Linked DNA regions of Homo sapiens: regions 1 and 2 are each linked to region 3. The links come from fine-mapping of genetic effects on gene expression. A gene starts in region 3. Each other region holds a variant in brackets. All regions are shown on one strand. Distances are between the middles of the regions.

Region 1 (8,000 bases), 23 kb before region 3:
GATGAAGGAAGCTCTTAAAATCCAACCCAAGTCCTTTTTGGCACAAAATGAACTCTTCTCAATAGCTCATGGTTACTGAATGCATTCTGCATTGGGCACTGGGCTGAGCTGTTCCATACACCAGCTTTGTGATCCACACAACCCCCCGTCGTGGAGTGAAGCCCATCCCTTTTAGAGATGAGAAGATCAGGGCTCAGAAAGGTGAAAGGACCCACCCAAGACCCTATTGCTAGGAAGTGGCAGAATCAATAGCGTCTGACTCAGGGGCCAATCCCCTCAACACTCTGCTGAGTGACTGTTGCCGGGCCCTCCCGTGGAAGCAGGTGTAATGACAGACCCCCCATCTGAGCCACAGGCCACTAGCGGTGCAGTGGAAGCCACTTCCTTCAGTGCCACTCTCCGTGGAAATGCACAAAGGCTGCTCAGCATCCTTGAGTGGGGCCTGGAAAGCTCTAACAACATACTCCTGCTTCCCGTCGTGCCCTACATGTGTAACAATGAGGTGCACACACACACACACACATACAGCCACATCTGAGCCCCCAGGAAGGAGAGAAGAGGAAGGCCCCTAACCTGATAGTAGTAGAAAGGGGACAGGACGTAGTTCAGCATCTCCTGGTGAAACACGGGGGTGATGCTCCCAGACATGGGAGGGACCAGCCAAATCCAGTCTGCCGGGCAGCCCCCACGGGACCGGTATTCATTCTGCATGTACTTCATGAAGGATTCTGCAGCCGAGTGGTGGTCCATGATGGTCACATTCTGCTTCTGTATCAGAAGGCAAGATAGGGAGTGGAGATAAGGGTGGGGGAATCAGGAGAGGGGCCGGTTGGCCGCAGGGCTCCCAGAGAGTGCCTGGGAAGGCCTGGCAATCTGTAACACGGGAGAGCAACTCCTGGCCCTCTCCTTGCCTGCTGAAAATAAACACCCAAATGGAAGGCGCTTGTGGAGCCTCTGACAGAGCCCAAGAAAGCACATTAGTCAGGGTCAGCCCACAGGTCCCATGGGGGCCTCCCTTAAGTCTTTGAGGGCAATATCCAGCCTCTCATGCCCACAGGTCTCCCCAGACTCCCAGCAAATGGCTCTCTCTGGATCTGCATAACTTAAACCACAGCACCTTTTGGCAGGTAAAGGAAATACCATCCCAGCCATTTATGGTGGAGAGTTCTAAGAGTCACTTCCATGGGGTTGTAGCCTCCTCAGCCAAGAAGGAGCCAGACCCCTCCGTGGGGAGGTCTGAAGCATTGGGAGAACTGTAGTGTATGGGAGACGAATCACTCACAGTCTGAAATTACGGGCTGTGGGGTCTGACCCCATGGAATGGTCCAGCAAGGCAGCCACTGGCCTCTATGTCTGTGGCAACCCATTCAGTCAAGAGACATTTGTTTAACACAGTGGTTCAAACTCTGGCTTTTTATTTGCCATGTGACCTTGAGCAATTAGTTCTTTAAGTTTTCTCATCTGTGAAATGGGAGTGATATGAATTCCTATAATGGCCAGGTGCAGTGGCTCATGCCTGTAATCCTAGCACTTTGGGAGGCCGAGGTGGGAGGACTGCTTGAGCCCAGGAGTTTGAAATCAGCCTAGGAAACATGGTGAGACCCTGTCTCTATAAAAATTTAAAAATTAGTAGGCCAGCTGTCGGGGCTTACACCTATAATCCCAGCACTTTGGGAGGGCGAGACGGGGAGATCACCTGAGGTCGGGAGTTTGAGACCAGCCTGACCAACATGGTGAAACCCCGTCTCTACTAAAAAATATAATAATTAGCCAGGCATGGTGGAGGCACACACCTGTAATCCCAGCTACTCAGAAGGCTAAAGAAGGACAATCGCTTGAACCCGGGAGGCGGAGGTTGCAGTGAGCCGAGATCGCACCACTGCACTCCAGCCTGGGTGACAGAGCGAGACTCTGTCTTAAAAAAAACAAAAACAAAAAAATTTAAAAATTAGCCAGGTTTGGTGGCACATGCCAGTGTTCTCAGATATGTGGGAGGCTGATGTGGTAAGAGCATTGCTTGAGCCCAGGAGGTCAAGGCTGCAGTGAGCCATGATTGGGCCACTGCACTCCAGTCTGGGTGACAAAACAAGACCTTGTCTCCAAAAAAAAAGTTCTTACATCATGAGGTTGTTGAAAGGATGCAATAAGCTGGAATAAGCAAAGCATAGTAAGTGCTTAATAAATATTAGCTGCTCTTATAATCTCCATCTGCCAGGCACTGCATAAGGCATCGGCGTTATAGAAGGGAAAGACACAGCCCTTTCTCTGCATTAGAGTCTAGTCTAACTGGGTGGGGAAGCCAAGGAAAATCAGTCATTTTCACACGGCCTGATAGAAACTCTGATGGAGGCAGGCAAAGGTGCTGGGGAAGGGCAGAAGAGAGGATACAACGCCAGACAGAGGCCCAGGGTGAGTTGGCGAATTTCGGGAGCAGCTCCTGAGAGGAAGGGAGACTTGTGAGAGGGGTGCAAGTTAGTTGAGTGGGGCACTGCATGAGTCAAGGCAGGGAGGCATGAGAGGATCCAGCTGGTGTCAGGCCTGGGAAGGCCAGCCATGCCTTGTAAATTCAATAGACATACATAAGTTATATATGTGTATATAAAAGTCCGGCCACCACTCTTGTGGACGTGGGCTCTCATTCACTTATTCTTCCAAGACACAGCAACTCCTGGGAGCCAGATCAGTTCTAAGCTCAGTGGTAGCTACAGGATGGGTGCAGTGGCTCACACCTGTAATCCCAGCACTTTGGGAGGCAGAGACAGGTGGATCACTTGAGGCCAGGAGTTTGAGACCAGCCTGGCCAACATGGTGAAACCCTATCTCTACTAAAATTACAAAAATTAGCCGGGTATGGTGGTGCAATCCTGTAATCCCAGCTACTTGGGAGGCTGAGGCAGGAGAATTGCTTGAACCCAGGAGGCGGAGGTTGCAGTGAGCCGAGATCACACCATGCACTCCAGCCTAGGCAATGGAGGGAGAGTTCATCTCCAAAGGAAAAAAAAAAAAAAAAAAAAAACTCAGTGGTAGCCACGATCATGATGACAACATAATAAACAGTAAGAAAATCATTGCTTACTGAGTGTTGTCTATGGGCCAGGCAGTGCAGCTAAACATTTTGCATGCATTTTTACTTAACTCTTATAATCCTCAGATGAGGGAGGCACTATTATCCCCATTTTACAGAGGAGGAAACAAGGGCCCATCTTTTGAAGTTTACCCTGAAGGAGGGTGGTGAGGAAGTCCTGGAGACGCTCAGGCAGTGGAAGGACACAGTCAGCCACGGTGAGGAGACAGCAGAGGCTCACAGATTTTCTGGGACGTATCCACATCCTGCCAGCATCAGGGCTGGTGCTGGGAGTCCCCAGGAGTCAGGATGTGTGGTGCAAAGCCAGCCCTTCCC[C/G]AAACACCGGGGGGCTCTTCCTGTTCCATCTTCCCCTCCCCCGTCAAGCACAGGCCTGATCTGCCTATGGGGTGACCCAGTCATGGGGAACAGTGTGTGCTCATCTGTACTCTGTTCACCACTCACATCCTTGGCCCAGCCTAGTGCCCAGCACCAGGCAAATGCTGAGTAAAACACTGCTGAATGAATGAATGACTGACCAGTGGTGGGGTCTCCAGGGCATCTGTCAGCTTTGTGGCAATGGCTGTGGCTTCTAAAGTAGTATCTTCCTACATCTCAGGCCTCCTTCCCACAGGGAAGGGAAGTGTTTCTATGAGTAAGAGCAGCGGATGGGCCTGAGGGCTTAGCCCTACACAGGAGCCCAGCGGCTGTGTGTGGGCTTAAGAGGAGGTGGAGGTTGTTATCCTCGCACAGCAAGCAAGAGCAGCCACAGCTCACAGGTCCCCTCCCAGCATCACTCATTCATGCACACGTCAGACAAGGACTGAAGACCCAGTTTGTGCCAGGCCAGATCGCGGATGTGGCCCTCATCATTCATTCTTCAAAGACAAATTATTTTAGCATCTACCATGTGCCAGACACTCTTCTAGGCCAGAGGTGCAGCAGCAAACAGACAGACAAGGTCCCTGCCCCATGGAGCTTACATTCTAGTGGGGGAAACCAAACAATAAAGAAAGCTGGCCCGGCACCGTGGCTTATGCCTATAATCCCAGCGCTTTGGGAGGCTGAGGCAAGCGGATCACTTGAGGCCAGGAGTTCGGAACCAACCTGGGCAACATGGAAAAACACCATCTCTACTAAAAATATAAAAATTAGGCAAGCGTGGTATGCACCTGTAGTCCCAGCTACTCGGCAGGCTAAGGTGGGAGGATCACTTGAGCCCAGGAGGTCAAGGCTGCAGTGATCATGCCACTGCATTCCAGCCTGGGTGACCGAGTGAGATGATGTCTCAAAAAAAAAAAAAGGAAAAGAAAGAAGAAAGTCGATGTCCTATATAATGCCAGGAACTGTATGAGGAAGTATTTTGAAGAAAAATAAAATGGTTAAAGGACTAACACAGAGAGACAGGTTGGCAGTGGGGTGAGGGCGTCATTTTACATGGCACGGTCAGGGAGGCCTTCTTTTTTTTTTGAGCGGAGTCTTGCTCTGTCGCCCAGCCAGGCTGAAGCAGTTGGGGGATGAGGAAGCACAATGAGATCTCTCCATAGTTTTGCTGTAGAAAGGAGCAGAAGGGTGAGGCAGTGGCTGGAGGGAGCCTGAGGTTTGGCAGGAGTTATGTGGTTAGCTATTCATTTCTTTCTTTGAAATGGGGCTAAGAGAGCCTGTCTGTACACTGCTGGGAATGACTCAGCAGAGAGAGAGACATTGATGATACAGAGAGAGAAGAGGAAAATTTTTGGGAGTAAAGTCCTTGAGCGATTGAGAGAGGACAGAATTCAGTGCTCAAGTACAGGGATTGAACAGTCTTGGGAGGTGAGGAGCTGCCTGTTGCTGGACCTCTAGAGTGAGCAAGGGGGCTTACTTATAAATTAAGCATCACATAAGTCACTGGATCAGTTAAGCTTCTCACCAAAAAGTCTTCAGACTCACAAAACTCCAGACATACCTGGAAACTATGGAGCACAGCAATGTTGATCTCAACGACAGCCTGGTCTTTCCAGAGCGAGGCCAGCTTGTGCGTTTCCAGGCCCATTCTCCTGCCCACTTCCTACAGAGGCAGAGTGATAGCGGCGAGTCGGTCCCTGAAGCCACCCCCAGGCCCACACCTTCATCTGGCCAGCTGGGCTGGCTGGGTTACCTCCAGGATGTTGTAGCGCTGGACGTCACAGAAGTCCCGGACTCCGATCTCTGTGCCCATGTACCAGCCATTGAAGGGGCACCCTGGGAACTCCAGGCCGCCCACCTCAAGCAGCATGTTGGCCACTGCAGGCAGGGCGTACCACTTTAGCTCCAGTTCCCGAAACCACTCGTATCTGGCAAAAAGGTAGACACAATTTAACTGGGGCCTTCCTTATTTTTATTTTATTATTATTTTTTTTTTAGTGACTTGGTCTTGCTCTGTTGCTCATGCTGGAGTGCAGTGCAGTGGCACAATCATAACTCACTGCAGCCTTTAACTCCTGGGCCCAAGCGATCCTCCTGCCTCAGCCTCCCAAGTAGCTAGGACTGCAGGCATGTGCCATCTTGCTCAGCTAATTTTTTTCCTTATTATTATTATTATTATTATTATTATTATTATTATTATTTTATAGAGTCTCACTATGTTGCCCAGGCTGGTCTCGAACTACTGGCCTCAAGTAATCCTCCTGCCTCAGCCTCCCAAAGTGCTGGAATTACAGGTGTGAACTACCTTGTCTGGCGCTGGGGGCTTCACTTTTGCACCTTTGGCCTCCCACTGACCCCCCACCTGCCCACCAAGAAAAAAGCTTCAGAAAGAGTCAAACAAGAAAACTCCTTTCCAAGAGTTGATTCTGAGTTAATCCCAGCCAGAGAGACGTATTGGACACATAGGATGCCATTTATTAAATTATGCATTCATGCACTCATTCATTCATGCAAACCTATATTAAGCTTCAAGTATGTGCCAGGCTCTGTGCTAAATGCTGAGAATGCAACACAACAGAGCAATTAAGGACTCCAGTGTCAGAAGCTGGGGTTCAAGTTCTGCCTCTGACTAGCAGTGTGAACTTGGGATGTTTTTTAGCCTCTCTGAGCCTCAACATCCCCATTATCAGAATAGAAACATAGCATCAAATTCATGGAATTATTATAAAGCTAGTAATATCATTCACTTGTATATTCAGTTATTCCACAAATATTTATAACTGAGCACCTACTATGTGCCAGGCACTCTGCTAGCTGTTGGGTATACATTGTGAACAGAAAAGAAAAGATCTCCACCCTCAAGGAACTTGTAGTCTAATGTCTAGACTCTAGATTATAAATGGGTAAACAAATATATAAGAAATAAAAACAAGATGATGTGTTAGACTGAGGGTAAGGGGGCCTCCTCTAGCTTGAGTGGTCAGAGAGCCTTCTCAGAGGAGGTGACATTATAGGAAATACCTTTTGACAAGAAGAAATGAGCCTAGAAAAATTCTGAGGAAAAGGCATGTCATGCAAAGGGAACAGGGAGTACAAAGGCTGTGAGTCAGGACTGAATTTGGTTCATTCAACGGCCAGGAAGAAGAGCCCAGCCCAATGTCTGCTACAGAGTAAATCTCAATACGCAGAGGTATTTTTGCAATTATGAGAACTGCCTAGAGCAGGGGCTGGGCCAGTAGGACTCTTGAAGTCACTGCAGCCCTATATGATCCCGACAGGAGAGGGACAGCTAAGAGCATTGGCAGGAGGGCAGAAGAGGCCTGGGCTGCTCCTTTCTAGAATCTCAATGCATTCCTCTCCTGCAGTCACTGCTTCTCAAGCTCCTGGGGCCCCATCCGCCTAAGCCTCTGCTTCCCCTCAGCATCAACACATCCACCTGTCTGAGGCCCGAGGTGCCAGTGCAGAATGGCTGCAGAATGCAACAGTGACAAAAGAGTCCTTGAAGGCCAGCCCCCTGAGTGTCACCTGCTGCTGGCTGGGCTTTAGGGAAGGTATGGGGAAGGCTGGAGCCGCACTTAGGAAAGGAGAAGGGCTGTGTGTTGACTCGCCCTTGCCCCCAGCACCCTCAGCCTACTTACTTGGGATGTTCCATGGCCACCTCAAGCACAAGGTCAGGTGGGATTTCGAAGAGCTCAGGGTCACGGCCATTGGCCTGCAGGACCAGGGGGACCACATCGAAGCGGCCGTACTTGGGCTTCCAGCCCAGGTCGATGCACAGCTGGGGAACAAGACGGGCCCTGTGAGTCTGTAAGCCCGGGCTGCGTGTCTCCTCTGGGCTCCACTCTGTCACTCGCTCACCACGGGGCTCCCCGCCCCAATGGCCGGTGGCTGAGGCTGGGCCGGGTACCTGAGTGAATTCCACGTTGGCAGGGTCCCCTCTGATGCTGCCATCTGGCATCTGGTAGCCAGCATAGCGGATGAGCTGAGCATTCCACACCCGGAAGTCGTGCTTGCCATCACTCCGCTGGGGGAACACGGTGATGGCCGACCTTCCCAGGACAGGAACAGTACTGTTTACCACCTAGCCCTGGTGGGGGCCCAGCCATCCTGCACTGGCCCTACCTCCCTCTCCACCCTACCTGCTCTGCAGCCCCTGATCCCAAGCTGACTGAGCCAGCCTCCTGACATGCCTTCTCCTGCTGCCCTCCCTCAAGACCCAGGGTCCACCCCCTCAAGGGGGCCTTCCCATCCATCAGGCAGGGTTAGCTGATCTGCCAGTCTTTCCCTCACTGCCTATGTCTCCGTCCTTGCAGTTGAGTTAGCTGGTTGCCTGTCTAGTGCAGGTCATAGGCTCACACCAGCTGGAGCAGCATCTTAGGGTCCTAGTCACTCTTCCTCCTACCCCCCCATACCCCATCTTCCCCCTGCTCTCCCAGCCTTGTCCTGTGTTGAGTTGCATTAGGTAGGCACTGAGTGTTTGCTGAACAAAAAGATGAATGAATGACCAAATGAGCTGTTCAGTCCTATTAGCTTTGACCTCGTTGGTTGGGAGAGG
Region 2 (8,228 bases), 78 kb after region 3:
TCTATGGACTGATTCTTCCTTCGTGTCCTCATCATCTGCTCAGTCCAGGGATGCAGTAGACGCTAGTAAGTGTTCCTCCTCCTTTGCTCACCAGATTTTTTTTTTGAGACGGAGTCTCGCTTTGTCATCCAGGCTGGAGTGCAGTGGCGCAATCTCGGCTCACTGCAAGCTCCGCCTCCCGGGTTCACGCCATTCTCCTGCCTCAGCCTCCCAAGTAGCTGGGACTCAGGCACCCACCACCATGCCCGGCTAAATTTTTCTGTATTTTTAGTAGAGACGGGGTTTCACTGTGTTAGCCAGTATGGTCTCGATCTCCTGACCTTGTGATCCGCCCACCTTGGCCTCCCAAAGTGCTGGGTGGGATTACAGGCCACCGCGCCAGGCCTGCTCACCAGATCTTTAAAGGAAATATTTGAAGCTGTTCCACTGAAAAACATTTTTTCATTTCTTCGGAGAGGCTCAAAAGCAATCTTGCAGCCTCTGAGCAGTTCATTAGCAGATTCCTTTAACCAGCTCCAACCCTGTACCCTGCTTCTGATTCGTTGTTGAAACCATGTGCCTTTCTGGGGTGACCTTGTGCCTGCCTGCTCCACACGGTGCTCTTCACCCTGTAAGGCACTGTTCTAAAGCCTCTCAGCATCTCGAACTTCAGTCACCCACCCCAAGTTAACAAGTTTACTCCCTCAGGGCAAATCGGCCACAGCTATGGTTCCCCATCATCGCACAAAGGGTGCCTGTTTTGTTTGATTTGGATGCTCAAGTTAATCCCCACCCACTAGGGAGGCAAAATGGACAGGTTCATTTCAAGAGGATGGGAGGAAGGTTGGATTTCAGCACTTGGTAACTTTTACTTTGGGGGAAATCCTCTCTCTGCATCAAGACAAACTTCCTGGAGGAAGTGCCTGCCAACTGTGCAGTGAGGGCAAGTGTTCCCTCCTCCAAAGCAGCTCCCAACCATCGGCGGTAAGACTTAGCCAAGAAATACTCACCATCTCCCAGCCTTTCTCATTACTAGAAAGCAGTGAGAAACAAACAAATGAAAGACAGACATCACAGTTTGCCTGCGATCATCATTCTTTCCATTCAGCCAGCACTTAAGAGCTCACAGCCTGGGCAGCAGACACACAACTGGCCTGGAGGGTTCTGCAACGACTAATACCTGGTTCCTGGCTTCAACGGCTTCACTCTTTGGTGGAGGAGACAACTACATAAAGAGTTGATTACAAAATCGCCCCTTTGGAGAAGGTCCAAACTCCTTAGCAAGGCCTGCAGGGCTCTGCACGATTTGGTTCCCGTGGTGTATTCAAGCCTCATCCCCTCCACCTCCACCCCTATTTTCTCCACCCACCATGATGTCTCAACCACACCAAGCAGCATGCGAGTCCCTGAACAAGTGGTGCTCCTTGGCCTGAAATGCCCCTCCCCCAAGCTAGCAAAGATGCCTCTGTCCCCTTCTCTGACAGAGGTTTCCTCTCTGCAGCAGATCCCAACTGGAAAAAGGGAGATGCCTGAACCTTAATTCAAGTTTTGAAATTTTATTTTCCTGAGACTGGACATTTCACTTCATGCATTGAAACTGTTTTGTGACTTCAAAGTAGCCATAGCTTTGGGTTTTTAAAATTTAAGTCCAGCCAGAAATTTTTGAGGCTTTGTCTCAGTTTTCATCCAGGGACAGGGAGAACAGGAACCTCCAGAAAAAAAAAATACAAAGGAATTGTGAGAGAAAAAGATAAATCTATGTTATGATCACATCCTACGAGCCACAGTTGCTCAACCTCCAGGCAACCCACGTCTGTCTTTCCCTTAGACTGTGAGTCCCTTCCTGCGTGGAGGGAAGACTGTGCAGTAAATGGTCAATGAAGATGGGGTGGGCACAGGGGCGAGAAATGGAACTGCGTAGGGCGGGACAGGCTCTGCCCCAGGAAGCATGTGCTGGTGTAGGACTCAAGGCTAGCACTGCCCCAGGAGTCAGCCTCAGATATGCAGGGTCTTGCAAAGAAGGCCCTTGAGGGTTTTAACATCTGTCTTTTGCTACACAGATAAACCCAGAAACTTTATAATGCAAATGCACCCCAGAAAGGCAATGTGAGTCCAAAGGAGTATCTAAGTGTGGGCAACACGTGTCAAATCCTTTCCTGCTGACATTTTGCTTGTACAGTGGACACCAGGGAGAGCCGCAAGGACCCACCTAAAGAGAAGCATCAGCTGGGCGCGGTGGCTCACACCTGTAATCCCAGCCCTTTGGGAGGCCAAGGCGGGCAGATCACTTGAGGTCAGGAGTTCCAGTCCAGCCTGGCCAACATGGTGAAACCCCGACTCTACTAAAAATACAAAAATCAGCTGGGTGTGGTGGCATGTGTCTGTAATCCCAGCTTCTCAGGAGGCTGAGGCAGGAGAATCACTTGAACCCGGCAGGCGGAGGTTGCGGTGAGCTGAGATTGTGCCACTGCACTCCAGCCTGGGCAACAGAGTAAAACTCCATCTCAAAAAAAAAAAAAAAAAAAAAGGAAAAGAAAAAGGAGAGAAGTGTCATCACCAGGTAAACCAAAGACAAGAGATGGAGGCCACATGGCTGACAGCCCATCTGTGTGCACTGCCGTAATCTCACCAGCCCATGGGATGTGCAACCTGTAGCAGTGAGAAAAGTGAGCCTGACAGGTTAACAAATCTGCCCCAAATCACACCACCACTAAGTGACAGACTGGGATTCAAATTCAGGTGTCTGTATCTCCAGAGCCCCCTCCAGCAGGCCACACTGGCTGACTCTGGGTGAGACCTTCATCTCCTTCTTCCATTTGCTTGGAGGCTACTCTGTAAACCTTCAACTCTATGCATTTGAGAATTGAGAGGAGAAATGAAGGACCCATACGCATGGTCCACGCAGGGCTTGGAGTAGTGGAAGTCAGAGGGCAGGGTGGAAGGCAAGGCTGCTGCTGAGGATGGGAGGCTCTCCCAGGCTTCAACAGTGCCCCTGTGTGCACAGTGCTGTGTGCATCCTGCCTCCCCTACCGTGGGCCCCTGCATGACCGGGCTCACTACCCTCTGTGGCAGCACAGGGGCTGGGGGAGAGCAGCCAACACACTGTTCACCCACCCCACCCCTTGCTGGCTCCCTCACAGGCCAGCCACATGCTGGAGCTAGGCAACCACTGTCTGACATGTGGCAAGTCAGCACAGCTGGACCAAGCACCTACCTAGGAACTAAAGGTCATAGAACCACTCCAGGAGCTGGTCAAGAGCAAACGACACTAACTCTATCCTGAACCCTTGTCAGCCTTCAATCATTTCTCTCCTGTTGGGGAAACATCTGGGATACAGCTGCCCCCACTCCTATGATCACAATACAGCCCTGCCACCTGAGGAGGGGCCCCCAGCTCAACGGCAGGGGTGCAGACAGGGGCCTGGCTCAGCTTTGGCCCTAGCCTGAAACCCCTCAGCTTGCCCATACCCTGGTGGGGCAGATCTGACCTCATCAACTGTTGTCTAGCAGTGGGGCCAATCCCAGTCACCTTCTCTGAAGAATGACCCCTCCTGGGCAGCTTTGTCTGACTTGACTCTAGGTTCTCAACAGTAGATGACACTCAGGAAGGAGACAACGTATGCTTAGGGAACGTATGGTTTATCAGTTGAGAAGACACACGAGCTTCCACAAATTGATATATTTACTTCATTGCCAGCGGAGTACACTCGCATACATAGATATCTCTGAGTCACTTTAAGTCACATAACTGCAAGGATACAAACAAACACTAGTTCATCCCTGTGGCTGAGTGCCCTTGGGGAATACTCAGATCCCAGTGGGGCTTCTCTCTGCATCTTCTGGCCACTCTGGCCGTTCTCCCTGAGCCCACCCACCTTCTCCCCCTCCCTTCCATTCTTCCACGATGGTAGCAAAGCAGGGAAGTGCCAGTGGAAAGAGACTGCAGGTGCACAGAGGCTTGGACAGGCCAGAGTCCATGGCAGCTGCTTTGGCGTCTCTCCTTGGTTCATGTGGTGGGCACTTCACCACTTCAAGGACACTGTCAACTCCCTGAAGGCAAGGCCCAGGGCTTTGACTTCCCTAGGCATGGAGAGACAGTAGTCAGGAAAAGCAGCTCCTTGGCAGACTGCTGGGTGTGTGACAACTGTGAGGGCTCAGGGGCTACAAGCAGGGACAGGGCAAGCTCGCAAACAAAAAACTGAGACCCGATGCGGTGCATGCGGGGAGCAGAGCTGTGCAGGGCGCTGCAGGAGCAGAGGAGGGGGCGGGGCAGGACGGCTTCCTTGAAGGGAGCCCTTCAGGCACTGTCATGTGCCACATCCTGTGTGAGGCACTTCACCTTCATCTTATTGCATCTGGGATTCAAATCCAGATCTGTCTGGTTCTAAAACCCACGTGCTTTCTTCTGTACAGGTTGCTACCTGAGGGGACATCTGCTCTGGGACTCAGAGAATGATAAAGAGATCTCCAGAATAAATGAATCACTTTCAGAGAAAAGTAAAAGAACAAAAACACAAAAATAAAAAACACACAAAAGAAGCAAAAAAATACTACATTCTCCCCAAATTTCACATCGTAAGTGGCTGGAAGTGCAAACATAAAGGATGCTAGCAACATGGCCGCGGCAAGAGGAGCCTCTGGAGCAAGGTCAGCTTCTCCCCTGATTTCTGGCTTTCAGCCAACAAGGCCAATGG[C/A]TCTTCCAAACCAGCTGCTGCTGCTGAGCTCCAGAAGAGGGGCCTCTCAACTTCCAGAGGCCAGGAAGGCTCACCCTCGGAGCTCTCAGTTTTGTTTTTTATACTGCAAGACAGAGAGATTCGAAGTGGAGGAGGGAAGCCAACAGGGGCAGGAGGACTCTGGAGAAATCTCAGGCCTCCATCATCTGGACCTCACCTGCCTCCTGCAGGGGCTTCTTGGAGGTGGTGAAACCCAAGCAGGAGGCACTGGGCAGCCAAATCTCTAGTTCATGCCTGGACTCCCTTTCTTCTTTAGTGAAAAAGGAAGCTGACAGGGCTGGGGAGGGAGGATAGTGATAACTCACTCTGGAGAGTGAGTTAGAAGGACAGGGAGGTATGGTCACACTCCAACTCTCTAGGTCCTTCTAATACCAGCATCTAAGGGCCAAGACGCCAGTCTACATTCCTGACTCACTCCCTTCCTCCACCAAAACATACTGAATGTTTCCTCCATAATTCTGCCCCAGTGTGAATACCCCCCAGAGACAGGGAGTCCCCCGCCAGGACAGCTTCCCTCTCTGCGGCATCACAGTGCCACCGCCGGCTCTGGCACTATAGCTTTCCCTCCTTCTTCCTGCTGCCCCCTCTCAGCTCGATCAGCACTGTTGGGCAGAAATTTGCCTTTAAGGATGAAGAGTGAGAGCCCCTCCCCACTTGCAGAATATAAATGCAACCAGAAGGGATTTGTCTTCACCTTTCAGCTTCTGGAGGAGGGAAGCAGCTGGCTGGTGGCCTCCTCCACAGGGACCATTCTCAACTGTGGGGCAGGAGTGGCCTCTAGTGGTCATGGGGATCACAGCCATCATCACCCCAGCTCGCAGGCAGAGCCCAGGGGCCAAGCACCTACTTTGTTCATGATCCAGTCAGCATCTTCAATGGCTCTTTTAATAATCTGCTGGATTCTCTCAGGGTTGTCTTCATCTGAATGAACCCGAAAACTCTGCAAGTTTAAGCATAAAGAAAGATGACTAGGCAAAATTCCCAGGACAGGCAGCTTCAGAGCACCAATCACAGGCCAGGGACACTGCTGGGCACTTTATACCCAGCAGCTCTCTTCATCCTCCATAGACTGTTATGATTATCCCACACAGAGATGAGGAAACAGAGGCTCACTTGCTGCTGAACAATAGCATTTGAATCCTAGTCTATGTGACTGCAAAGCATGTACTCCTGCCACCAAGGTAGGTGCAAAAAGACTGGCCCCCAAGTTACTGCCAAATCAAGCTAGGCCCAAAGGCTATCAGGCAGTAGAGTCCAAGGGGAAACTTCCATCTCTCTTCCTCAGAAGACGCTGCTTTCCCCAGGGTGAGATCTCTGCATAGGCTTTACAGCAGGGAGGAAGAAGTAGGACTTCTCTCGGCCCAGTGCTAGGAGAGCTACACAGGGAAGGGAGGGGAGGTAGTAGATAGAGTGGCCTCAGGAAATCCACCCAGGCCCAGTGCAGAGCATGGGATACTGTTTGCTTTTGACCAGATATTCATCCTTGAGAAGCAACCTAAGATTCAGGTTTTGCTTTTCAAAAAGAACTGGCACCAGGCATGGTGGCTCATGCCTGTAATCACAGCACTTTGGGAGGCCGAGGCGGGCAGATCACCTCAGGTCGGGAGCTGGAGACCAGCCTGACCAACATGATAAACCCCATCTCTACTAAAAATACAAAGTTAGTCGGGCGTGGTGGCACATGCCTGTAATCCCAGCTACTCGGGAGGCTAAGGGAGGAGAATCGCTTGAACCCAGGAGGCAGAGGTTGTGGTGAGCTGAGATTAAGCCATTGCACTCCAGCCTGGGCAACAAGAGTGAAACTCCATCTCAAAAAAAAAAAAAAAAAAAAAAAAAAAAGAACTGGCACCTCCCTCCCCTGTCACTCCCAGCCCCACACATCCTCCTGCTCATCTTTAGGAGCGCCCCCCGCTCAGCATCCACCTCTGGCATGCCCTCCTTGACTCCCCCAGACAGCTAACTGCTCGTTCTCCATGTTTCCACAGCCCTCTGTGGCTACCGCCACCTCTGATTTTTTTTTTTTTTTACTTTCCATATTATATGTGTATGAATTTTAGCTAACTTTCTATTTGGAAATGATTTCTCACTTACAGAAAGTTGTGATAATAATACAAAGAATTTCCTACCAGAATCACTGACTGTTAACATTTTGCTACACTCGCTTTATCATTCTCTTTATATAAGTATGTATAAATTTTTTCAGAAGCATTTAAGAGTAAGTTGCAGACACGCTATCCTTACCCCTAAACATTCCCATGTGTAGTTCCTAATGACAAGGGCATTCTCTGACATAACCACAGTAATCAAATTCAGAAGACTCAACATTGATACAACTCTATAATCCATAGCCCATATTCCAATTTCATGCACTGCCCCAGTAATATTCATTTTTTTTTTTTGAGGCAGGGTCTCACTCTGTCACCCAGGTGAGAATGCAGTGGCACAATCACAGCTCATTGCAGCCTCGACCTCCGGGCTCAAGCAATCCTCCCACCTCATTGTTTGATTTTTCTGTAGAGACAAGGTCTTTCTATGTTGCCCAGGTTGGTCTTGAACTCCTGAGCTCAATCTGCCTGCCTTAGCTTCCCAAAATGCTGGGATTACAGACATGAGCCACCATGCCTGGTTCCCAATAATATTCTTTACAGCATTTTTTTTCTGGTCTAGGATCATACATTACATTTAGTCACCATATCTCTTGAGTTCTCTAATCCAGAACATCAAAAATGTCAGCGTTGTGTTTCACGACACTGACATTTTTGATGAGTACAGGCCTATTAGTTATGTGGTAGATGGCCTCTCGATTTGGTTTTACCTGATGTTTTCTCAGGATTAAATTCAAGTTGTGCACTGTTGGCAGGGATGCCTGCCTAAATGATGTCGTGTCCCACAGTCTATTTTAATTACCCACTTAGCTGCCTCATGCATGCCCTAGCACAGCTGGTGTGCTGGGTGAGGCACCCTCTGTTTCCTGGACAGAGAGGAGCTGGGCTGCCCAGCACTGGTTTCCTGTGGCTCTTCCCACACTGCCACCTCACCACCATCTCAGAGACTAGCTCTGTGCCCTGGCCTTGGCCTCTGACCTGCGCCCCTAAGCCTGCCATTAGAGGCAGCCCCCAGACCTGGTAGAGCCAGCTCGCACCTGCCTGACAGCATGCTTGTAATGCTGCTGGATGCCCTTGGTCGGCAGCTGCTGGCAACAGCGCAGCAAGTATCGGTAGAGCTGCAGTGGCCTCCGAACCAGTTCTGCTCCTGGCAGCGGGGCCATCCGTGAGACCCTCTGTCCCTGGAAAACAAGCAGGATCACTTCCAGGGCATCAAGCCAAGTTCAGTACTCAGCCCTGACCCCCAGTTCCCAGTACTCTGGGAAGCAAGCTTGGTGCAGTGCAGAGGCCCCTCCTGTCCCATCCCATGGAGCCTGCACCTTGGGGTGGGGTGGGCATTCAGTTCAACAGAAGCTCTAGCCCAGAGCAGGCCCACAAGACCAAAGGTGAGTGTGGAGGGAGACTTACAGCC
Region 3 (8,240 bases):
GAACCTGGCAGGTGGAGGTTGCAGTGCAGTGAGCTGAAATGGAGCCACTACACTGAAGTCTGGGCAACAGAGTGAGACCCTGTCTAAAAATAATAATAATAAAAAATAAAAATAGAAAAGAAAAAAATAGGGGATGAGTTGGGTCTGGATGAGCTGAGGGAGGAATGTGCTATGCACAGGCACTGGGGAGCTGAGGAAGGCTGGGATGGGCAGGTGGGATGGGCTCTCCATTTGGGTAGGGTGCTCGCTCAGAACTCTGTGGAAGCTTTAATGTGGTGACAGGCAATGGGGAGCCACTGCAGGCTCTAGAATAGGGGCGTGACTTGCTAGAAGTCCAGTTGGCAAGAGAGAGCTCAGAGCCAGTGTGGGGAGCTGGAGTCAGGGAGGTCAGCTGGCAGCGGCTGCAATGATGAGATGAAGAGAAGGAAGGGGCGAAGCCACTGCCCCTCTACAGCCCTTAGAATCTGGACATCTAGAGGCCATCAACTCTGTGTTCTCACCTCTTGGTCTCTTAGCCACCTCAGTTGCCATAGCCCAGACTGCCTGGTTTCAAAGTCCTCTCCTCCAATTCACCTACCACACCACAGCTAGACTGTCCTGCTCAAGAACCTACAATGGCTCCCTACTGCCAGGGAGAGCGAGTCCAAATCTCCTACCCTGCATTCAAGCCCTTGTGCTCTGGCCTGGCTTTGCCTATCCCAGCCCCCAGCCCACTCCTGGCCAAGCACAGTCAGGCTCATTTCTGCCTCTGAGCCTCTGCTCACCTCTCCCCTCTTCCTGAATGTCCTTGCTACTCCTCTGCACCTGTCTACATTCTACCCATACTTCAAAGGCCACAGAGTCCACCTGACTTCTGTGAAGCCCCTAGAGGGAACTCTGTTCAATTTTGCTCCATCACCTCCTAACTGCCAACACCACCGCTAATGATAGCAATGCCAACAGTGCCATTTGCTGAGCACTTACTCCAGGCCAGGCCCTGTGCTAAGTTGCTCACATGGGAAAGCTCATTTACTCCTTCCTCCAACTCCAGGAAATCACCATTGTTACCCTCTTCTTATAGAGGAGGAAATTGAGGCTCAGAGGCTAGGGGACTTGCCAAAGGTTACAGGGCTACTGAGTGGCAAAGCCACTTGCTCATCCCCAAGCCCATCCTCTTAGCCACTGGCATTTTTTGCCGCCTCTGACAGATACACTCAGGGCCGTCATGCTGTACACATCCAGGGGGCGCCCTACCCTTTGTAGTCCATGGGAAAGGCTCCTCTGGGGCGGTGGGGTTGTGTGGCTATGTGGTGGTCTTGTGTAGATGGGGGCTTTGGTTTCAGTTGCACTATTGCGTTATTGCAGATTGCTTTGTCTTTCCACCTGAGCGAGCCTCAAGCCTGTCCCTTGACTTGTTCATTAACTGACTCATTCTCTTGGTTCTGCCCTGGGAGGAAGGATGGGCCCGGGGAGGAGGGACATGAAGAATCCAAATCTGGGCTCAAGTTCCAACTCTGTAAACTCTGTAATTACCGGTCATTCAGGCTGGGGGAAGTCATAATCCTATTAGAGCTTCTATTTCCTTATCTGTGAAATGAGTCAATCATATGAACTTCAAAGAGCCGCCACAGAGATCAGTTGAGATGCAAAGTCTGTCAAGTGGCCTGTGTAGCTCTGGCAAGGGCAGGTACTCAGTAGATGGTGATGAACCCTGATGTGGACTAAGTGTCTGTTCTGTGTGGGCACAGTGCTGAGTGCTGTAGATCTCATTTCATCCTCAGCACACTATGGTGAGGGCCCCCTTGGGTTCCTCATACCACAGGTGAGCACTAAGTTTCAGAGAGGTTAACTTACCCTGCGTCACACAGCTGGCTAGAGGCAGCACCCGGCAACTAGTGCGGCCAGCACAGGGCTTGGAACTAGTTTGTCTAACATCCTGATGCCCTTCACCAGGATGATATTCAAAGCATCTAGCAAGCGGTGAATTGGAATGGACGCAGGCCAGGATGCTGACCCTCCACCCCCACCCCTCCGCCATGGTGCCCACCACGAGGCTCTACTGCCTCCCATTCTCAGGCCAAGCTCCTTCCCATATTCTTCCCCAAAGATTCCAAGCTTCTTCAGGGCCAGCCCCGCACCATGTCCCTTCCTTCTTCACATACCGTCAGGCACAGCGAGGTGCCCAATAATCAGCGGCTGCATTGAATTCCAACAGGGACTTTCAAGAAGCAATGAGGAGATCAGACCTCAGGTGAGAGAGGAGGAGCAGAGAGAGGAATTCTGAGTCATCGGTGCCGACAGGGCATGGGTGCCCAAGGAGACAAGCAGGAGGTTCCCCCAGGGAAAACTCACCTGGAGGTGGCACAGGGGGCTTTCTCCACATTGTTGTTGATGTCTTTTTCCCCATTCATTGCATACTGGTGGAATTTGGTCTTGAACAGAAATTTCCAAGGACAGGCCATCTCTATGGCTTTACAAAGCAGGTCACTTATGTCACTTATCTGGATTTGAGCTCAGATGTTCTTCACTGTGGGGCTGAAGAAGGGAAGCAGAGGTGAGGGAAGGTTGAAGAAGAGTTTACAGAACAGGGCTTCTCAGTGGGGTTGGCTCACTGGGGAATCGATATGAACGCCAGCATGAGCCCCTTCATCAATGCTTTGCAACCTCTGTCTCTATTTCGGGGTTGGAATGGGGAGCCTTCGGACACAGACTTCAATTCTGTAAAGCCACCTAATAATCTTAAGGAAAAACAATGAACCCCCCCATCCCCATCGCCACTTAACAAGGACAAACTGTATGCACCATGAGCCTCCTTAGCGGGACCTGCTGGCCCACCAGACCCAGCCAGGCTTCATCACTGGCCACAGGCAGGGTGAGGAAGAGCCCGGAGGTCGTTGAAACAGGGGTGCCTTTGCCTGACCCTGAAAGACACTTCCCAGCAGCTCTCATTATCAACTGTAGTTTTAGGTCTATTACTGGGGAAAGCACTCAAGCTGTAGCTACCTTTCTTTTAAAGATTTTGCAGTTGTTGTTCTAACTCAGCATTATTACTTGCTCCTCTTTTATTATGTGGGGAGGAAATATTTGTGAAAAATGCACTCATCCCTCGAAATCTGAGATCATCTCCTTTGAAACAGACAAGAGGAAGATCAAAGAGGCAAAAACTCTGTCTTTAGAAGACAGTGTAGTGAATATAGTCCATGTAAGAATTTTAGGCCAAGTGCAGTGGCTCACGCCTGTAATCCCAGCATTTCGGGAGACCGAGGCAGGAGGATCGCTTGAGTCCAAGAGTTCGAGTTCAGCCTGGGCAACATAGGGAGACCTTGACTACAAAAAATTGAAAAATTAGCCAGGCAGGCATGGTGTCTTGTGCCTGTAGTCCCAGCTACTCGGGAGGCTGAGGCAGAAGGATTGCTTGAGGCTGGGCAGTCAAGGCTGTTTCCAAAAAAAAAAAAGAAAGAAAGGGAAGGGAAGGGAGGGGAAGGGAGGAAAGGACAGGAAGGAAAGGAAGGAAAGAGGGAAAGAAAGAAAAGAACTTATAGCCCCATAGACCTGGGTTCAAATCCTGGAATCCTAGCTCTACCAGTTATGTGTCCTGGATCAAGTTATTTAACTGAAACTCATTTATTCATCCATAAAATGGGTTTAATATATCCATCTTACCAGGATTTGTGGGGAGGTTACATGTTATAAGGACTGATAAGATAATCTCTGTTAAAAAAAATTCTTAGCAGATACAAACTCCCATTTTGAACTTTTCAGAAAGTTTTTCCTTGTCATGTAACAACCACAGCTAATATTTGCAGAAAAGAAATCTGACCAAGATGCCATGTTCAAATGACCAAACCTCATGTCGGCATTTTTTTACCTAGACTTTCCAACACCTTCTCTCTGTAGGCAGAAAATTCCCACAATTTTCTGAGCCTTCTCAAAGAGGAAGAAACAAAACCCTCTCAAAACAGCCGCTTCCCCAGAAATGAAGGCAACTCACCTTGCAGCTGGCTGCACTGCCTCCCCGGGGTAAGGACAGTCAAACCAGGAAGAGACCTGTGCCTTGAGAACTTCGGGACTGTCTAGAACTGCCCAGTCCCCTCATCAAAGGTGGCCGAGAGATTTTAAAGCAGGAATGAGGCTGAGTTCTCTGCGGCCGGAGCCTCAGTTTTCGACTCGCTACAAAGTTATGAACACACTGGCAGCCAAGAAGTATTTATACTCACCCCATGCCATCCAGAGAGTTGTTTTTGCATAAAGGTCTCTTTTTTTTTTTTTTTTTTTTGGTTTCCAAAGGGAGTGTCCCCAGCTTGTGTACAGTTAGCTAATTTATGACTGTGACTGCCAGGGCCTGTGGGTGACCTGATCTTGCTGTTACATCACTCTGTGTGGTGCCTCTTCACCCAACCCACCTCTTTCTGGTCCCAAGTCCAAGGTGGCAGTTCATCAGCAGGGTGGCTGCTAAGATAGAGGCACCACGGAGCCAGGTTTTATTTGGCCAAGCCACATGGCCTCACTTTCAGCATCTGGGAGATTTTTTCCTCAGCAGGGAGCTCTCTGGTTAATCCCTGTCCATCCTCTCACTTTTCCAGCTTGTGACAGGAGTCCAGGAAGCTGGGGGAATATTGACAGTATGGAACACACTGGAAAATGCCCAGGTTCCAGAAGGCCAGTGATATTAGATGATGCCATTATTCCAGACAGGCCTCTGAACTAGTCACTTGAGGTTTTTGGAAGGGAAAGGAAGGAAGGCTATTGGCACAGAGAGGCCTCTGAGATGTTGGTCTTACTAACACCTCATCCTTTAGCACTAGGTAAGCTTTGGTGGAATGGCAGGTAGGATTAAATTCCTTCCCTTATAATGGAAATGATCACTTCTTACATGAAAAAGTGGTAATTTCTTATAATTTCATTTCATTTATTTTATTTATTTATTTATTTTTGAGATGGAGTCTCATTCTGTCACCAAGACTGGAGCGGAGTGGCACGATCTCTGCTCATTGCAACTTCTGCCTCCCAGGCTCAAGCGATCCTCCCACCTCAGCCTCCTGAGTAGCTGGGACTACAGGCATGCACCACCACACCCAGCTAATATTTTTGTGTTTTTGGTAGAGACTGGGTTTCACCATGTTGTCCATGCTGGTCTCGAACTCTGAAGCTCAAGTGATCTGCCCACTTCAGCCTCTCAAAGTGCTAGGATTACAAGGGTTAGCCACCATGCCCGGCCTATAATTTCATTCCTTATAATGCCTGAAATACAGTATTCCCATACATATGCATTTTTCCATCATAAAAGTAAAATAACAACTACATTAGGGAGAAGTTGAGAAGCAAAGGGAAAAAAAGTCACCCTTGATCTCACCGTCCCAACACTTTGCTACCACTGTCCACTCATTTCCTTCTTGTCTTTCCCAAGTTAAATTCAGCATAATATATTAACTTTGTCAAAGATAAACTAAGAGCCACAAAAAAGACATGGATATCAGAGCTCAAGGATCTTTGTTGAGTGAATGTGTGGATGAATGAATGAAAAATAGGAGTAAACTGGAATGAGTTTTAACATATCAAAGCCATCTTCCCTTCAGGCTTCAGCTCAATGCTGCGGCTCAATGCTGCGGCTTAGAGCTCTGGCTTATGGAGCATCTGCCACGAAGAGCAATGCATTTTAGAAAGTGACAAGATGGCCGGGCGTGGTGGTTCATGCCGGTTCAGTTCAGGTAAACAGCACTCAGGGAAAGAGTCAGAATCCTGGCCTTAGGGAGTGCAAGGCCTAGAAAAATAAATGGATAATTATAGTACAGAGTGATATCTGTAGTGATGGAGGGATGGTATGGTGCTGATGTAGCTGGTTCTGCCTTGTTCAAGGAAAGTTTACAAGGGAGAGGACACCAGGGCAGGGTTTTGAGGGATGATTAGGAGTTTGCTACACTCTATTCCCTGTAGCTGCTTTCACATATTCTGGCTATACCTGCAGCAAACACATGTATTAACACATTTAATGCCCCCACCCAAGAGCCTCTGAGGGGGATACTACTATTTGCTATTCATGGAATCCTCAAGAATCCCATCTACTTGGCCTCAAAGCACTTCGTTGATTTTCCTTCAGAAAATGCAGTTATTCAGTTATGTGATCTGTCAAACATGTCACCTCAGGTGCCCCTCTAACACAGCGTCTGCTTGGTGTGGCATTCTTGACCTGTGGCAGGGTTTGAGTCCAAGCACCAGGCTTGAGGACACATTTGGAATTAGCCAGCTGGGAAGGAAATATAATTTCTCCTCAATCATCTTAAGTTATTTGTTGGGAAAGACACTGTAACAAAAGACAGATTAATAATAGAGAAAAAAAAGCAAGTTTGTTAATGTCTGTGATGCACACCACGCAGGAGAAGCCTCAGTGAAAGTAACTCAATGCTGCGGCTTAGAACTCTGGCTTATGGAGCATCTGCCATGAAGAGCAATGCATTTTAGAAAGTGACAAGATGGCTGGGCACGGTGGTTCATGCCTGGAATCCCAGCAATTTGGGAGGCTGAGGTGGGCAGATTGCTTGAGGCCAGGAGTTCGAGACCAGCCTGGGCAACATAGTGAGATCCAATCTCTACAGAAAAATTGAAAATAAATTAGCTGGGTATGGTGGCATGCCCAGCTACTGTAGTCCTAGCTACTCAGGAGGATCAGGTGGGAGGATCAATTGAGTCTGGGAGTTAGAGGCTGCAGAGAGCTATGGTCGCGCCACTGCACCCTAGCCTGTCTCAGAAAAAAAAGGAAAAAAAAGAGGGAAAGGAGGAAAGGAAAGGAAAGGAAAGGAAAGGAAAGGAAAGGAAAGGAAAGGAAAGGAAAGGAAAGGAAAAGAAAGGAAAGGAAAGAGAGAAAGAAAGAAAGAAGAGAAAGGTGACAAGACGAATGCAGTTGTAGGCTTCCAGGGGTGGCAAGCTGTGAGAAGGTAAACATGTGGAAGTGAGCTAAGGAGTAGGATAGCAAGGTTTGTTTGTATTTGTAGATGGCTCTGGTGCCATCTCTGAGCTGATAAAAGTTATCTTCTCATCTTGATGCTGGGAAAGCATCTTTCTCCAAGGAATGTTTATGGCTTGCTGCAGGCAGGACAGGGCAGTTCAGATAGCCCTCTCTCTAGCTGCTCTTTCTCAAATGCCTTCAGCTGGAGATAATCAGGATGCCATATCGGCATATCTGGGCGTGGCATGTTCTGGTTTCCTTTAGCCTGAAAGGTCCCAGGTTCGAGGCACAGCTTCACTGCTGACCTACCATGTGATCTTGGAAAAGCCACTTCTCTCTGGGCCTGACTTTTCTCGTGACAAAAGGTGATAAAAATAAAAGTAAATAAACGAGATACAAGAAAATGCTTTGAGCCATTGAGCAAAAAGTCAGCCAAGTAAGAATTTATTATCCTTGCTGGGAGTCAGAGAGTAACAATTTCCCTTTTGACAAAGAGCAAGTGGATGCCAGGACTTGCCTTCTGAAGTATCCTTCCTCAGACAGGTCCCCGTCCCACCACAAACACCTGCTTTTAAATTCCCGGTCCTCTCTCTCCCTTTGTAACATTAAATTCATGTATGTATTTTTAATTTTTAATTGGAATAAATTTCACATAACATAAAATTACCAATTAACTATTTTAAAGTGTAAAATGCAATGGTTTTTAGAATATTCACAATGTTGTATAACCATGACCACTATCCCAATCCTCTCTTAACCGGCAAATAGGAAGAGGAGGAGAGTAAAAATAGTGATAATGATTGTGATGATACACAGAGGTTAGGAGACTCACCAAGGTCACACAGCAAACAGCCTTCAAGCCGGGACAAACAGTGAGCTTCTGGTACCCTCCCCAGAGCGCCTGTCTGCAGGGTCCAGGGCTGGCCCCCTCCTGGAGGTTGGCAAGTCTCCTACGGCTTCCTGGGCCTGCACGGCTGCCTTCTTCTTGGCCCTGCCCACCCAGCAGGCCGCATTCCTGGCCTCTTCTGATGATGGATGCAGCAGGTGAATTCTGCTGGGGAGAAATCAAAGAGCACCTTGAAGGGCAGGCGGGGGACAGGTGGGCCCCCCGGAGGGTGGCGATAGAGGTTCCGAGGCTGCTGTGGAGAAATGCCCTCCTCCCTGCCTTCCCAGGCTGTCCTAGGCACCATGCTGACAGCAATCAGCACGGGAATGTCTTGGGCTCATTATCCTGGAATTGATTTTCCACTGGATTGATTTGATCTGTTTCTATGCCAGGCTGTGAAGATGGTTCAGATCCAGTTAGCCCTCGGAAGTT

Which allele goes with the higher level. Alleles are on the strand shown, and positions count from the first base shown. SD is a standard deviation of normalised expression in the study named. Not every link is listed here.
For the expression in tibial nerve of the gene that starts at base 4,161 in region 3, C is the high allele of the variant in region 2 and A is the other (large effect, 1.1 SD a copy in GTEx).

Evidence for each region.
Region 1: its variant is fine-mapped to the expression of NOS2 in lung (TOPMed, PIP above 0.99).
Region 2: its variant is fine-mapped to the expression of NOS2 in tibial nerve (GTEx, PIP above 0.99). The same link has a PIP of 0.9 or more in T cells, blood mononuclear cells, breast, caudate, cerebellar hemisphere and cerebellum.

Annotation. Positions count from the first base shown.
Region 1 is chr17:27,773,684-27,781,683 of GRCh38, forward strand. NOS2 (nitric oxide synthase 2) reads right to left here. Exons shown (of 27, transcript NM_000625.4): 8 at 7,353-7,494; 9 at 7,084-7,223; 10 at 5,199-5,373; 11 at 5,007-5,108; 12 at 574-768. Among named protein-coding and RNA genes, the nearest start is that of NOS2, 23 kb to the right of the region's middle. The variant C/G (reference allele first, on the strand shown) is at 3,401.
Region 2 is chr17:27,874,715-27,882,942 of GRCh38, forward strand. It overlaps LYRM9 (LYR motif containing 9), which reads right to left. Exons shown (of 4, transcript NM_001076680.3): 2 at 7,855-7,998; 3 at 5,560-5,652; 4 at 3,644-4,776. The coding sequence starts at 7,980. The coding sequence ends at 4,759. Among named protein-coding and RNA genes, the nearest start is that of LYRM9, 15 kb to the right of the region's middle. RefSeq lists an enhancer at 7,251-7,941. The variant C/A (reference allele first, on the strand shown) is at 4,674.
Region 3 is chr17:27,796,369-27,804,608 of GRCh38, forward strand. NOS2 (nitric oxide synthase 2) reads right to left here and starts at 4,161. Exons shown (of 27, transcript NM_000625.4): 1 at 3,971-4,161; 2 at 2,332-2,514. The coding sequence starts at 2,441. RefSeq lists promoters at 3,994-8,240, 4,074-5,191, 4,074-4,366, 4,125-8,240, an enhancer at 4,335-4,363 and cis regulatory regions at 4,676-4,698, 6,725-6,860, 7,519-7,658.